Regions from separate parts of the Homo sapiens genome. Here region 1 is linked to region 2. The links come from fine-mapping of genetic effects on gene expression. A gene starts in region 2. The other region holds a variant in brackets. All regions are shown on one strand. Distances are between the middles of the regions. Region 1 holds the start of LOC105378040 (a long non-coding RNA gene). Region 2 holds the start of ADGB (androglobin).

The links. PIP is the estimated chance that this variant, and not a neighbour inherited with it, causes the effect.
Region 1: its variant is the best candidate, but not a certain one, in a credible set for the expression of ADGB in testis (GTEx, PIP 0.61).

What each region holds. Positions count from the first base shown.
Region 1 is chr6:146,766,464-146,774,813 of GRCh38, forward strand. ADGB (androglobin) reads left to right here. Exons shown (of 36, transcript NM_024694.4): 29 at 2,557-2,668. It overlaps LOC105378040 (a long non-coding RNA gene), which reads right to left and starts at 4,690. Exons shown (of 4, transcript XR_943093.2): 1 at 4,632-4,690. The variant A/G (reference allele first, on the strand shown) is at 4,967.
Region 2 is chr6:146,595,184-146,603,533 of GRCh38, forward strand. ADGB (androglobin) reads left to right here and starts at 3,789. Exons shown (of 36, transcript NM_024694.4): 1 at 3,789-3,931. The coding sequence starts at 3,858. ADGB-DT (ADGB divergent transcript) reads right to left here and starts at 3,748. Exons shown (of 3, transcript NR_125860.1): 1 at 3,650-3,748; 2 at 2,887-2,988; 3 at 1-1,321. RefSeq lists a silencer at 3,590-3,884.

The DNA.
Region 1 (8,350 bases), 170 kb after region 2:
TTAAATTAAACTAAATTAAACCTGGGGGTGAGGGGGAAACACATAACTTCCTGAGGGTGGGGGAGAGGAGAAATCGCAGAGTTGATTCACAAGAAAATAGAAAATCTGAATAAAACAGTAAAGAATAATAAAATTGAAACGATAATTCAAAGTCCTCTAAGTCTTCCCTTTCCAAAAAACCATAGGCCCCCTTTTGGCTTTATAGGATAGGTCCAATAGACTTTTAAAAAGTAATTTCTTACGGAAAACAAACAATATAACTTTTCAATCCTTTTTAAGAAATTAATGTAATCCTGATTTCAAAACCAGATAAAGGTAACACAAAAAGGAATAAAATGTATTTATAAACATAGGTGATAAATTGCAAATAACATAATAGATATCCAATTCTAGCAGTGTATTAAGCAATCAGACAGAATTCTTCTCAGAAATTCAGAAATCTTTTACCATTGGAAAATCTATCAGTATTAGTCACTACAGTAATACACTAGATGAGAACAATCATATAATCCTGAAACATTTGACAAAGTTTAACACCTATTTATGGATTTCTAAAATGTGCTCTTAGCAAACTAGGCATAGGAGAGAACTTCTTCATCATAAATGTTACATGCCAAAAATTTTACACTTAATGGCCAAATCTCATATACAAAACCATTATACTAATGTGGGAAGTGTAAGTGTGTTCCTATTAAAATTGGAATAAGAAAAGAATGCTTGCTATAATTGTTAGTATTTAATGATACTGAACTATTATGATAATGGAAAGCCACAATGATACAAAGAACAAAATAATTAAAAGATTATTCTAAATAATCATTGAATTACTCACAGATAATATAATCATATGCCCAAGAAAAAACAACAGAATAAACAAACTTTAGAACTAAGAGATTTTGGCAAGATTGCCAAAGACATTAATAGTAATAACTAATATATTGACTTACTTATTACTTACTATGCACCTGATACTATGTGCTTCACACATAGATCTTGAATTCTCCCCATCAACTTTTTTCTTTTTCTTTTTTGAGACAGAGTCTCACTCCATTGTCCAGGCAATGGCGTGATCTCAGCTCACTGCAATCTCCACCTACGGGGTTCAAGTGATTCTCTCGTCTCAGCCTCTGGAGTAGCTGGGATTATAGGCACATGCCCCCACACCCGGCTAATATTTTTTGTATTTTTAGTAGACAAAGGGGTTCTCTACCATGTTGGCCAGGCTGGTCTCAAACCCCTGACCTCAGGTGACCCACCCACCTCAGCCTCTTGAAGTAAGTATTCTTATTATCTGTATTTCACAGTCAAGGAACCTGGAGGACAGGAAGCTTAAGTGACTTCCTCAAGGCCAAACAGCTGGTTTGTGCTAAAGCAGGACTTCAACCCAGACAGCTCTAGCTCATGAGGTCATGCCCTTAATCACAATGCTGTTCTGCTACTACAACTTAAACAAAAATCAGTAGTGTTCCTCTACACCGGCACTATGCATTAGACATCAGAATATGATGCCTTTAATAATAGCAGCAACAAAATCAGAAAACACCCAGGAATTAACCAAAAATATATCAGTTTTCCACATAGAAAAGCTTAACACTTGAATAAAGGCTACAGAAAGTAACCCAATCCACTGATGGACACAGATGACTTGAATAAATAGAGAAGCATTTCATGCTTTTCAGCAAGATGGCATAACAGTATAAAGATATGTTATCCTCAATCTGCCTTTAAATTCAATGCAATCCCAATCAAAATTCCCACTGTATTTTTCTGAAATTTTCTAAAGATACTTTAAAATTCATAGGAATGAATAGCAATTCACAAATAGCTAACGGAACTTGGGGAAAAAAGAGCAAAGTGTGTCTTAGTATTTCCAAAGACAAAAAGATATAGCAGTAAAAATAGTATTAATTAATGCATACATAGGTAAATGGAACAATAAGAGAAAGTAAGATAGAAACAGATCCATATTTTTATGAAAATTTCATATAGAATAGAGGCAACACCATAAACCAATGAAGAAAAGATGGACTATTGAGTAGGTTGTACTAGGAAAATTACATCTCCATGGAGAGAAATAAAACTAGATCACTAGCTAACATCATACATAAAGGTGAATTCCAGATATAGTGAACATTTAATTGTAAAATTTTAATCCCTAAATATAATAATAGATAATGTAGGAGACTATTTTTTTCTGTGTCATGATCACAAAGAAGAGAAAACCCTAAAGGCCAACAGCTTTGAAAAAATACTCAAACTTTATAGTAATCTTAAAAATGCAAAATACAATAGCAGTGAGATTTCACTTTATACCCACTGCACTCACAAAAATTATAAAGTTGGGTAGTGGCAGGTGTTGGTGGGGATGTGGGGCTATTAAACTTTTATAAAGTGTAGCGTTACAGAGTTTTGGAGAACATCCAGCATGATTTAACTAAATTATGACTGTCTGATCTGGAAAATTCTGCATTTATCATGTACCTAGCATAATAAATGACATTAGGCACATACCATGTATGTTCTTATCATTTTTAAACACTGCATTTTATTTCACAGAATTACAAGTATATTATACAGTGTTCGGTGTTGTATAACAGTTGGCCTCTCACTGAAAGCCAGCTGACATTTGTTCAAGCACTGAAAGACTTAAAGAAAAGTAATACCAAAGGTATGTCACCCTAAATGTTTAAACATGCACTTTACATTTGAATAAGTTGATATTTAAATATTTAATAATAAATTGATTTAGTCATGAAAATATCATTGTATGATGTTTTATTACACATTATAATTTGTACTCTATATCCTGTTACATTTCCTGTTGTGTTAATTGATTATATGTTTCAATATTTTTACTGCCTGTTTTATAAGGAAAAAATATGATTAGTTAGATGTAATGTAAGCACATTTTGTCTAGTTAATAAAAATTACTAATTGATTATACTTTTGAACATTTCAAAAATGTATGACATTTTTCTATTTATAAAATTATATTTGCCCATATTTTTTGAGAATATATAGCATTAAATACAAGCTTTTAAAATATTTCACAAATTCTTCAATTCCAGAAGAATAATTTTCTAGTGAAAGAGTACTCTGGTTTATTTTTTCAAAATATAAACTACTCTAGTATTCCTGGCCAGGAAGCTTGTTGCTTTCAAAAAAGAGAATCAAAGGGAAATCTCCAACAGCTTTATATCCCATTGGGCAATCTAATAATTGAATCTGAAAGAATGTGTATTTTCTATTTATGTTCTCTTTCAAATTTAAGCTAGATTGCCTAATCATAAAATAATATATGCATGTTATTTTTAAAATAAAATAAACCCATGCAATACAAAAGGGTATAACATAAAATGTAAAAGCCTCCATTTCTTCCTGGGTCCCATTAACCTGAGTTCAAACACTTGATGGTAGCCACCACCGAAGTGGGCTTTGTCATCATTCAGAATTTTTAGTATACATACAACACGCTTATGATAAGACGTAAACTCTTAGTCCTTTTCGTCCTCTAAGAAACAGTAAATTTTATCTATTATTTATATTCCTCTATTAGAATGCAAGCCCCTGAAGAATGAGGAGTTTTGTCCATTTTCACCTGTTTCGTCCCTTGCATTATCCCTAGTTAGATCCCATATGAACAGTAAGCACCCCACAATATTAGCTGAATGAGTAAATGGAAGGATACATGTAAGCTATTCCTATTATTATTACCCTTATTTATTAATTGCCAACAACTCTGTTCAGGCGTTTGCTTGCTTCTATTATCTGCCTGGACCTGATCAAGAAAGAGCTTAAAAAGGTTTGTGTGTACAGAAGTTAAGAGAAAACTGTTATTGCCAGGCTTACTTTATTAGAAGGTATAGATTCTAGTATGTGTCTTAAAATTCAAAGAAAAGCTATAAAAATGTATGACACCAAGAGTTCCCATTTCCACTCAAATGTATTGAGTGTGCTTCCATAGCAACGCATCACACTGCCGAAATTCCAACGGCATCGCACTGTGCGGCCTCTTCTGAGGTTCCTCTCTCATTGGGCAGGGATGTGTTCTTCCTCGGTCTCATCATTGCATCTCTAGCACTAGTGGGAGATGTCAATAAGTGTTTAATGAATGAATGCATGAACATGCCACACCAGTGACCTCAGGTATGTGTAAATCCTAATGGCATCCTGGCCTGCTGTGTGGGCAAGATTCTGAGGCTGTGTTCAGGCTCAACGAGAAAGTTTTGTGATGTTTTATCAATATTCCACGTAGACACAGGAAGAGAAAGTGGTAGCACTGGGGCCACAGAGTCGCCGCCTCTTTGCTGTTCGTGTGTGGTATGTGGATAACTCCAGAGCAGACAATGGGGTGTTCAAACCTTGTTTTTTGAACGAGTGGCTGTGCTACTGCTCCATAGTGTTATACATAAAAACACTTTCGCACATTCCCTGGATAGTCATGGAATATGAATTTTGCCAAAACATCTGCCCATTCTACTTCAACCTCCCCTCCTAAAGCCAACACCCCTAACAGCCCAGCACACTGAGAATGTCTGAAACAGCAGACAAGGCTTCGATCTCATATTCTTGCCTACTAGAAGAGAACACAATTATTCTGTGAGTAAATGTCATATGAAAGCCGCAAATACCTTGCAGGCCACGTCTCAAGCCGAATACGCCCGAATACGCCTGTTGATTCCCTTGTTGTGGTTGCACAGGCGGTTGGCTTTGGCAATCACTTCCTTGCAGCTTGTTCCCGGATGCTGTGTTTCCGGCCCAGTTCCCTTCTCTGGGTCTTCAGCTGTGAAGGTTTCCTGGACCCACCTAATGTTGCCTAACCCTGTGTTATGGATTATCTACTGCTGTGAATTTGAGCCCTTTGATTATTTTGCAGTTGACCACCCACACCCACCAAGTTCTAATGGAAAATAAATGAAAAAAAAAAATCAGTTGTTTATGTTTATTTCTCTTTGCATGTTACCAT[A/G]TTCTCTTTCTCTATATGTTTTTCCCGTCAGGTTGCCACTTTTGTTCTCGCTTAAAGTAACCATTACCCTATTCCTACTTCCCCTGTGGTTCAAAGCAAAATCTCTTAGCTCATACCGTGCCCCCGCCCCTGGCCCCTGGCCCCCACCATTCTCTGTCTTCTTTTTCTCTATCAATTAACAGAAACCTGTTTGAAATAATGGATGGTACAAATCATGTGGTAATTTTGTGTTCCCCTACTGCAAAGAAGTAGATAGAGTATATGCCTAATACCAGTGGAATTAAATATTTTATGCTAAAGATTTAAGTGCAAATAAAATATTCACAATTATAGAAATCAAAGAATAAAGAAACAGCACAGTTTTGTATGAGCTTGTGTGTTCACCAAAGCTATTCTCATTTCCACTTTGTTCTTCAAGTTATAGGACTGGTAGATTTTACATTACATTTCTGAGGATTAAGAATTTCAATGGATCAGAGAATGACAGCCAGTTCTGATTTGTTTTGTTTTGCTTTTTGTTTTGGACAGTGTGGGCTTTTTCATGAGTTGCCTGTAACTCTTTATAATTCTGATTTCTGTATTATAATAGCGTGTTATACCTGTCTCAATAAGCTCAAAATAGTCATGCTACTGTTGTTTATAGCAATTATAAATTATAAACCCAGATCCATATGACAGAAAACAAATAATCTCATCATAAATCATAAAAGGAAAACTACAGAGCAACCTTGCTGAATTCAATTGAAGATCTTGCTCACAAGGAAAACCTGTTTCTGAATAATGTTTAAATGAGATTCATAAAAATGTGCAATCATGAAGAGGTATTTGTGAAAAAATTTTAAGCTTTTCAGGGAAAAATAGCATCACATAGTACAATGCTATTGACTAGAATTGCTTTCTCCCAATTCTCTAAAGTAAACTAATGTCTAATATGGTGCAAAAGAAAAATATCTCAATACTATTAAATTTAGTTAAATATATATATTATATTTATTATATATATATATCACACAGCTGGTTGCTGGCACAGCTGGGAATTCTAATGGAAATTAAATTCCATCAAGGGCATTTGAATGGGGAAAATAATAATATACAGTAGTACTGGTTTCACGTCTTTATTTGTGTCTCTGATAGAGGGCTGTATTATGGTTTTTTCCTATATTAATATGTAATTATATAATATATATTATATATTATATTTATATCATATGAAATATATTTGCCTAAATTTATTTATTATATATAAAACAATATATACATAATTTAAATACCTGTGTATATTTTCTGTGATAACTAGAAATTTGGTTTCAGTACTTATATGTTGAGTGTGTTATGTAAAATTTTGTAAATTTGGGATATTTAGAAAAAAAAATGACACCTTGAAATGTGTGGAGGAAGTGAGGGTAAAATAGTTTGTATTATACAAGAAAGTCTTGAAGGATACCAAGCATGAGAAATAAAGCTTTGCTTTGGAAGTAGAAGTAGCGGGAAGGAGAATGTGTCTCAGGCTATACGCAGGAGCCAGTGCTGGACTCACATCACTCACAGGAGCACTTACTGGGCATCACGTGTGCCTAAAGAGGGACTGATTCCTGCCAGAGAGCACAACATGAGGGACAGAGCAACAAGGAGAGTATCTGCACATAGCTCACTATTCAAGGCCATTCCCATTTCCTTCCACATCAGAAATGGTGGGGAGGAAAGATTCAGAAATGTTTCCTCTCACTTTAGGTCACAGAAATTCATAATTATTAATATTAAGACTTCATAACGTTAGACATTAGTGACCCTAAATTACCACCTCTCTTCAAAAATACATAAATGCGTAGAAGAAGAAAAGGCATACATAGAGAAAAAAAAAAGATCGTACATACCAATTAAAGTAATTAGTTCTGGATGTTGAAATTATTAGTAATTTTACTTTATCACTTGTATTTTATATCTAGAAACAAGTTTTAATGAAAAATATATAAATGGGAAGTTTTAAATGAGCACATACAATTTTAATCAGGAAAAAATATGGTACTTTTTAATTTTTAAACAAGAAAAACTCTGGAGAGACCTAGAAGTTTAATCACTCTAATTATAATTGAGTGCTATTATGTCCATCTTACTCAACTTAGTAGTTTTCATGCATTCTTCTTAATTCTCACAAAAACTTTGGGAAGTAGTTATTACCATCCCAGTTTTACAGATGAAGAAATGAGCCTTAGATGCTATGAATAATTTGCCTAAGTTTGCATAGGTTCGAAGGAGCAGAGTGAAGGTTCTAACATAAGTCTGATTTATTCCAAAGCCCAGAATCTTCCACCATATCATGTAAGCTCTTTAGATACTCTAACAAGTTGTATTGTCATAATAGTACTGGTGGTAGTGGTGATATTGATGGTACTGGTAGTAACTGCTAACATTTATGTCCAAGAAGGGCTTTACATATATTGACCCAATTAATCTTCCCAATAAACTTATGAGGTAGGTGTTATTACTACAGCATTGTCATTTTACAGATGAGGGAACTGGGATACAGACAGTTTAAGAAACTTGCTCTCAGTCACACAGCTAGTGACTGGCACAGCTGAGAATCTAATGGAAATTAAACTCCATCTAGGGCTTTGAATGGAGAAAAGTAATAATATACAGTAGTACTGGCTTCATATCTTTACAGTGTCTCTGAGAGATGTCTTTATCTATATTACTTTAGTGAACACAAAAGTAATATAAAGACGTCTGTCAGATATATATGACCCATATTGTTTTTCCCTGTTAATGGGTAACTATTAAGATTCTAGTGGAAAACTAGATAAAAACATTAATATCTGAAATGAACACAGTAGTTTAATTCATGAAATACAATAATGTAAATATGTAGAATTGGGTAATGGTACAAAATTAATAATATGAGTGAACACTCAACAAAATGGTATTATCATGTATTCCAAAGAAAAAATAAGTCTTCAGAAAATAATTACGTTTTCTTTCCTGATATCACATTTGAAAATTTTATGTGTGAATGACCAGCTGCTAAAATTAAATTACACTTTGGATTACATAGTATGTTTGTTGCTGAAAAGCAGCAAAGAAATTCAGAATTAAATTGTATTTAAAATGAAGTAGGAAAATTTTCTGTTTGAAAGAATATTTTGTTGGGCAATCTTCTTGAAAGTCAAGCAGCTTTCAAATTCAGAATAATTAAGTCTTTAATGTCATGTTTATAAATATTTAGTCAATTTGATTAAAGCATGTCTATATGTCAGCTGCTATGTATCAATTATATATACAACTTAAAATCTACCTGCTCTGATTTGAAGTGCATGATGTATTTCACACATCAGTTACTCCATACATAGAAAAATTACATATATAGAAAAATTCAGTTACTAATGT
Region 2 (8,350 bases):
GTAGCAGAGAGTTTAGGAGCCTGCACTCTGAAACCAAAGTGTTCACCTATGCATTTTGACTCCATTCCCCCTGTGCTTTGGACTTTGGGCAAGTTGCTTTGCCTTTCTAAAGCTCATTTTCTTCGCTATAAAATGGGCAGAGTTTCATACTTCATAGGGTTGTGATCACTGAAGGTGTCAGAGGCAGAATAATGTGGTTATAAAGAGCATGGGTCTAGAGCCATGAGTTTGAATCATGCCTGATCACTTACTAACTTAATTTAGCCACTCTTTGCCTATGTTCCTATTTATAAAAGAGAGATTATAATAGCAAATCCCTAGGGTGTTTGTAAGGATTAAGTGAATTAATACAGAAAAATAGCTTAGAAGAGGGTCAAGCACATAGCAAGTGCTCAACAAATGTAAGCTCTTATTATTAAGGGTTTAGGAGCTTCAAAAGTGTGAATGAATTTGGTAGAAGAGGAGTTTTTGCTTTGAGTGACCCTACAGTCTAGTAAAGGAGAAAAAACAAGGCATAAGTATTAATAAAAACAAGACAGAATATTATAGGAATTTTAAAAGATGAACAAATAAAGTTCTGTGGGAAATAAAGGAGAAGGGTGTAAATTTCCATGGAAATGTGAAAAGAACAGAACTTGAAGTGACAGTTAAATTCAACCTTACACAGAACATGTAGAATGCATACTTTCTCATTTGGCTGGTTAAATTCCAAGTAATTTTATAATTGACCTAATTGCAAAGAGGTAGCTGAGCAGCAAAATATATACAATTCCCTATGGCTGTGGAATCAAGTGTCTGAAGATGGAGTTATGGATTTAAGAAACAGAAATGCTGCCACTCTGCCCACCCCTGCCATCTCCCACCCAGTTCCCTCCATCTAGGATTCCCATTGGTGGAGGGAGAAGTGGTTGCCAATTCTCACTTCCCTATTTAGGCAGATCCTCAAGCAGAGAGACTCCTGCCTGTTTTGTTTCTGCTGATATGGGGAAGTGGGTACCTCTAACCACTTCCCTAGGGAGCAGGCGCTACTGCTGCCTGAAGCCAAATATCTCTTCCCCGAAAAGGAAGTATAGATTAGAGAGAGGCCCTATTCTGGGTAGCTTGAATAAAATATAAGCCCTGTTTCTCAGTCTTTGACAGTTGTTAAATAGCAAGAGTTTGGAAATCCCTAAGCTCAGTCCCAGGGCAATCATCTGTATGGACAGTTAGTCCAGAGAATTGGAGAGAGCACAGGTTATGGAGTGGCCAATCTTCCTCTGCCACCTACCACCTGCTCCATGTCAGGCAAGTCCCATTTCCTGTCTGCATTTCAGTTCTTTACCTGTGGAATAATAACATTAGCTATAATTCTCTGAATGCTTGGGATGAGTCAAGCATATTTGAGGTATTATTCTTCCCTTTCCACAAATAAAGAAAATGGAAGTTAAATAACTCACCCATAATTACCCAACAAGAGTCAGGATTTAAATTCAAGTTTATCTCTAAAGGAGTTAGCACCCTTCCCTAAACCTTGCATGTAGTAGGTACTCAATAAATCACAGCTATTATTATTATTATTCCAAAGTGACATTGACAACAGTTATAAGAAAAATAAAAACAGCAGTAGGACCTATTGTCTTTTTTGCACTGCCACAATAAATATCATGTTAAGCTTTGTAGCTAGAACTATCTTAGAGAGGAACAGATTTGCTCTTATAATTACAGCCTGACCAGAACCTTAGCTCCAGAAAGAAGAGAAATTCCATTTATGCATGTTGCACTCTTAATATAATAAAGGAGAAAGAACACTGGCGTAGGAATTAATAGGCAACTTATACTCGTCACATCTTTTATGATTATCTTATTCCATTCTGGTGACAACCCCCTTACTTTATCCTAATTTAATAGATGTTTAAAAAGCAAGCTCTGAGTGGAGTAGTGATATGTTTGGCTTAAACTGGCAATGCTGACTTTAATGTGTTTAGTCCAAATTCCATCAATAAATAACCCAGCAACTTTTGGCAAGACATTTTGCTTGTCTTCGCCTGGAGTTATTTGTCCATAAAATACCGGTGGGATGTAGATCTTTTGATTTCTAAGGCTTATCTTCCCTAATTCTTTTGGCATCTTGCAGCCATTAACAATGGCTGCAGGATAGCCCTTGTTCAAGAAGAAACTCACCTCTCTGTGGGGTTGGCTGCTTAAAGTTGTGCTGTTTTCAGCCAAGAGTCTTTGTATATACTTATAGCTATAAATTTGATTACTCTGACAAAATTTGGTAGTAAATAATTTTTCTCACCATTTAGTCCTCTACTTTCATTCAAGAGAGTTCTCTGGAAATTTGAATTATGGTATAAACAAAGCAGAATCTTCATGATGTGTTCATTGTCTTTACATATATAGGAGATGTTTGCAGGGCAGTCTTGTAGTCATAATATTAACACTGCTGACTTGGAATTTATTTATTTTGCATATAGAAATACAACGAAGGGGCTGTCTGTCATCTAGGTAACCCCCAGTAGTAATCCAATAGTAATAAGATTGGGATAGTCTGACAAACCATAGGCTATGCTGAGTGGAGAGCCCTGAGCATTCATTTGTCAGAGAAGTTGAAAGATTTTCTCTGCAGGAAGCTGCCTCTTGCCTGCACAGGTGGAACTGTGAGCATGTGCCCAGTCCCATGAGTGGAGGGGATTTCTTTTATTTAAAGATACTTAACTATTTCTAGGCTCATGAAAGACACCAACCAGTAGTAGTGGTCCTAGGCCTAAGGGCTGTGTGTCAGATATCTCTGAAGTGAGGTTATATTGAACCAACACAATATTTTGTTTTGTTTTGATAAATTTGCAAGCTCTTGCAGTCTAAGCATGTCTCAGTTAAGCATAGTATCCACTACTCTGTATTTACCTGGCCAACTTCATTCATTCACGCTGTCTGCTGCTCCTCGAAACCAGGTGGTCTGTCATCTCTGAAAGAGTGGCTCCTATTTGCTGCGCTTTGCATCTTATCCTCAAAACAGAACTGTGAGTTAGGTATAACTCCTATTTATAAGTGAGTAATAGGCATCTCCTATTTATAAGTGAGTAAACTGAGACTCAAAGGGAAAAACTAGCCCAAGGCAAGATAACTAACAAATCACCACTGATGACTGAGCCTTAAGCCTGCGCCCTAATAAGTTTCATTTTACTTGGTTCTGTCTGTGTCATCTGGCCCCTGGACCTTTTCTGGAAAGTCTGCAAAGGACCACCTGAGCCCATGACTTGGACTCACTCTTTCATTCGAACAACAAGACACCTTATTGGTTTTATTACAGATATCATCACCTAGCCCTCAGCGACTCAAGGTGTCATTATTTTGCCTTCCTTACACCCACTGTGTTAATTTCTGGACCCCAGGTTTTCAAGCCATTGACAATTTCAGCGTGTCTGTAATGTCTCCTTAGTAATTATTGAAGGTACTTGTTATATTTAGCCAAGAGAATAACTGGGGTGGTACTAGGATAACATCTACGTTCAAATAGTTGGATATTCAAGAGTCGATATATGTCTATGGTTCCGAAGGGCAAAGCCAGGCAGTGTAGGTCCTGCAGAACTCCAATTAATCAGGGCTGCCCAGTAATCCTAATGCCAAACCCGTGCCCCAGAACCTCGATTTCTCCCCAGACACCAACTCCAAGTTCCTCCACGGGGATGTGGGATTTCAGTTTATGCTCTTGCGTCCCTCTGCAGCCACAGGCCGCAGAGCCCGCCCCCAGGGCCCCGCCCCCGCTCTCCGGGCGCTGGACGCGGGACGCCGTCTCCTGGCAACGCAGACGCGGAGCCGAGCGCGCCCGCAGGCTCTTTGCTCAGAGCTCAGCCCTACATAGATCGGCTTCTGCCATGGCCTCCAAACAAACCAAAAAGAAAGAGGTGCATCGTATCAACTCGGCGCACGGATCGGATAAATCGAAAGAGTAAGGGACCTCTGCCTGTCCGTCCCTCCCCTGGCCTAGCCCCTCGACCTCACCACTAGTTCTGGGGCTGCCTCCCTGCAGCAAACTGTGCCAGGGCAGAAGTTTAGTGGCCTCCTCGCAGCTTGTCTTCTCTGGTAAACCAGATCCTGGAGGTGCTCGCTCTCATCCTTCTCTCTTGCTTGTCTTGACTCACTTCCTTTCCCAGAGCCCCTGATTTTCTTGCTTTGGGTGTTCAGCTCCCATGGGTGAATCTGCCACCCCTCCTCTTCTTCATAGCCCTCTCAGGCAGTTAGAAAGGCCATAGCTTTCCTAAGAAAGAGGCATATCTCAAATACTTCTGGTTAAAGCCACATCTTCATGGCCCCGGAAATGATACAGACAGCGAGTGACAGACAGACATGGACACATTTCACCTTAATGGTGATTTTCTAGTTTGCATCTGCCCAGTCCAACGACTACGATCTTTAATCAGATATAGTCAGACGTAAAGTGGCTTCTAAACCTTAAAACATTATAAATGTATAGTTCATGTTACTAACATTTACTCTGAGAAAGTAAACAGACCCTCGCTCATGGAATTTTTATGGTGCCTTTGTCCTGGGCTGGTGTTAGGTGTTGTGTCTTAGGATGTACTTCCCCATGATTATTATTTTCTGTGGTCTGTTTCCCTAGGGATATCCAGTTATCCACAGCATAGGATTGGGGCTGTTTGAACTTACACCATTTCTAATGTTCATTCCCACTGTGAGAGAATCCCAGCTGCCCGCCCTGCTTCAGTGGGATCATTCATGTTCTTCATGCTCTGCCTGATGGGGAGGGCGATGCAATCAATCATTTCAAATTGAATTCTTACATCCTTGATGCCTGTTTCTCCATTTCCTTCCCTGGCTGAAGAATTCCACATTGGACTGATCCCTATGATTCACTGATCCCTAGGATTTAAACTCTTTTTCTTTGTGAATTCTTCTCCCAGACTCATTCCCATGTCTGTGAATCTCTAGTCCCTTAGTTCTAACCTCTCTCATAAGCAGGTTTCCAGTTACCCGGCAGATAATCCATTCCTTTTACTAGCTTAAATTTTAGATATTACATATATAAGTAATATTACATATATAATTTTATATAAATATTACATATGTAATTTTAATAGGATTGCTTTACTTCTGTGTACCAAAGTCAGGTCTTTTCAGCGTTGTCTAATGGCTTCCATTCCTCTAGGTCCAAGGCCGAGGACGCCCTTCAGAATCAGGCCTGTATTACTTCTCTAAAGTTACCTTCCACTAGCCTTCTCTCCACTCCCTGAGTCATCTCAGGATTGTTCCCACCGCAGGGCCTTTGCACTTGCTGTTTCCCCTATTGGAAAGCTTTTCTGCTCAAATATCCATATGGTTTTCCCTCTCCCTTCCTTCAGGAGTTTACCTAAATGTCATTTTCTCCTGTTAGCTTCTTTGGCCACCTGATTTAAAGTTACAACCTCTACTTCTCTGCCAAAATAAAACAAAACAAAACAAAGCTCCCTGTCTTCCTTCACTGTTTTATTTTTTTATTGACTTTTATTTTTTTGCTCATTTAACATGCTATATATTTCACTTTTTAAAAACTACATTTTTTTTTTTCATTTGTCTTCCCAATAGGGAAGGCAGGGATTTTCCTTTTCTATTTTACATACTGTTGAATTCTTAGTACTTAGATAGTTCCAAGATCATACATAGTAGGCACTCAAAAGTGTTTAGTGAATGAATGAATGACTCTCTTAACTAGGAGATATTAAAGGATTGCAAAAGAATTTTGAGTACACCCCTCCCCCATGCGCACACACACACACACACACACACACACACACACACACACAAATAACTAAGTCACTGATGGTTACAAGTAATGCACATTGAAGGCTCACAACTCTTTAGGAGCTTCGGGAAAATCTTGGACTTTAATGAGTTTATATCCTGAAAGAGATGTGACTGTTAACTCCCATAAAGAAACTTATCAAACCAGACACCATAAAACACATTACTTGCCCTGATCCTTTGATGGTTGTATTACACAATGGAAACTAGATCCCCACTGGTAAGATGCAAACTCTCTTCTTACTAAGACTGTCTATTTCTTTTTGAGATGGTAATAAATGTCTAACATGTTTTTTTTCTAGAAAATATCTGAATTATATCAATAAAAATGTATGCATACATTTATGAAAATAGAAGAGGAAGGGCAAAGAGTTATTTTTAAAAAGCTAAGATTTGTTAGAGACTATTGAGCATCAAACACCAAATCATTAGATTTTTCTGCAACATTAAATAATTGGATGTTAAGTTCATTATAAATCAAGTCTATCCTCTAAGTTTAACTGAAGAACTAATCACAGAACCTAAGCTAACCCATAGATGTAGGACAAAGTGTTACTCAGTATGAGGCGTAGGGATCAAAGTCTAGCAAGGCTCTAGTATGATTGTTATTTAAAATACACCGGGAGATTTAGAGTAAGTTTTTATGTCATTTTACCACACCTTGTGTTTACATATCCAATAAATGCGACCAACTCTAACATGTTCCTGGATATGGAAATAAAAGAAAAAGTCTTCAGAGCCTTGAAAACGGCTATGCAATAGAATCTTACACTCCTAGAGATGCCATCTCTGACATCTCTCTTTTGCCCTAAAATTATGTGTCAGACTGGGAATAAGTGTCATGTTTGGCTTTTGCCTCATATGTCAACTAGCACATAAAAAAAGTCACCATGTGCTTACTAAATGAGCTCATAGTTTTGTTATCCACCTTGGTTTTCATTCCTTCTGAATTTGATCGAAGCCCAATTCTCCTTCTCTTTCCTATTTGATCTGCTATTGGCAAAGTTCAAAAACTGAGATGTTACAACTGATTACGGTAGAATCATCTATGTTCATATTCATAAGTAAATATAACTTTGAATCACCAAGAAAAACTATTCCAGGTAACTAAGCTGTAAGTTTTTACATTAGATTAAACAATTTCTATTTTATCTATTTCCTAGTTCTCTGTATCTGCCAGTATGAAATCACTATTCTAGGGTTCACTCTGGCATCAATTTTTTGACAACGGACAAGTCATTTTCTATTCTGACATTTAGTTTTCACTTCTTTAAAGGGAGGGTCCTTTAATTGAAATTGCTCTTACCCCAGCATGTCCTGTTCTCCCTTCCCTGCTTTATATTTTCCTCCAGTTCTAAACTTCCATGATTCTATCAGATATATTTTTTAACTTCACTGGGTCCATAATAAGTGAGGGGATTTTGTTACAGTAAAATGTTTAAAACCATGGTTTAACTGATTGTTCTGTTATCATCTTTTAACATAACAATTTTTAACGTAAGATAACTTTAACATAACATCACAACTGTCACAGATTATAACTCATTGCCAGTATCTTAGTTTGAGCTGCTGTAACAGAATACCATAGATTGGATAGGTTAAACAACAAACATTTGTTTCTCACAGTTCTGGAGGCTAGAAGTCAACAAGCAGGGTGCCAGCATGGTCAGGTTCGGGGAAGGCTGTCTACGTCAAGGGTCCCCACCCGCTGGGGCTGCGGACCAGTACCAGTCCATGGCCTGTAAGGACCTGGGCTGTGCAGCAGGAGGTGAGAGGCAGGGGAGTCAACATTTCCCCCTGAGCTCCTCATCCTGTCAGATTAGCAGAGGCGTTAAATTCTCATAGGAGCGCAAATCCTATTGTAAACTGTGCATACAAGGGATCTAGGTTGTGTGATCTTTACAAGAATCTAATGCATCCCCCTCTCCATCCATGGAAAAATTGTCTTCCACAAAACTGGTCCCTGGTGCCAAAAAGGTTGGGGATGGCTGCTCTACTTAATTCACAGACATCTGTCTTTTTGTATCCTCACATGCTAGAGAGAGAAGGCTAGTTAGTTCTGTTACTTTTCTTATGAGGACAATAATCCCATCATGAGGTCCCACCCTCATAACCTAATTACCTCCCAAGGGCCCCATGTCCTAATACCATTCCATTGAGAATTAAAATTTTAAGATGTGTATTTTGGGAGAGGAGACACAGATATGCAATCTGTAATATAAACTAATAACAATTAGCAATTATAAACAAATTAAATTAATTGATCAATCTAATTGATTTGAAAACTAATAAGTGCTACAAAGATTCATTCACCAATTAGATGCCGCTGGAGGGATTTGTAGTGATATCAAGACAAAAATTTGATCTTCTTGGAAGTACTAAATATAATTCTTTGTGTATATCATAGACAAGATAACAGAGACAAAAGAAGTCGTGCAGTTTAAGTATTGACAGTATTAATGCATACACTTTATACACTAAAATACTTGGAACCTTAATGGGAAGCTTGAGATAGGGACACAATTTGATGTTTATACTTATAAAATTTTTTTCACTTCCAAAAGGACAT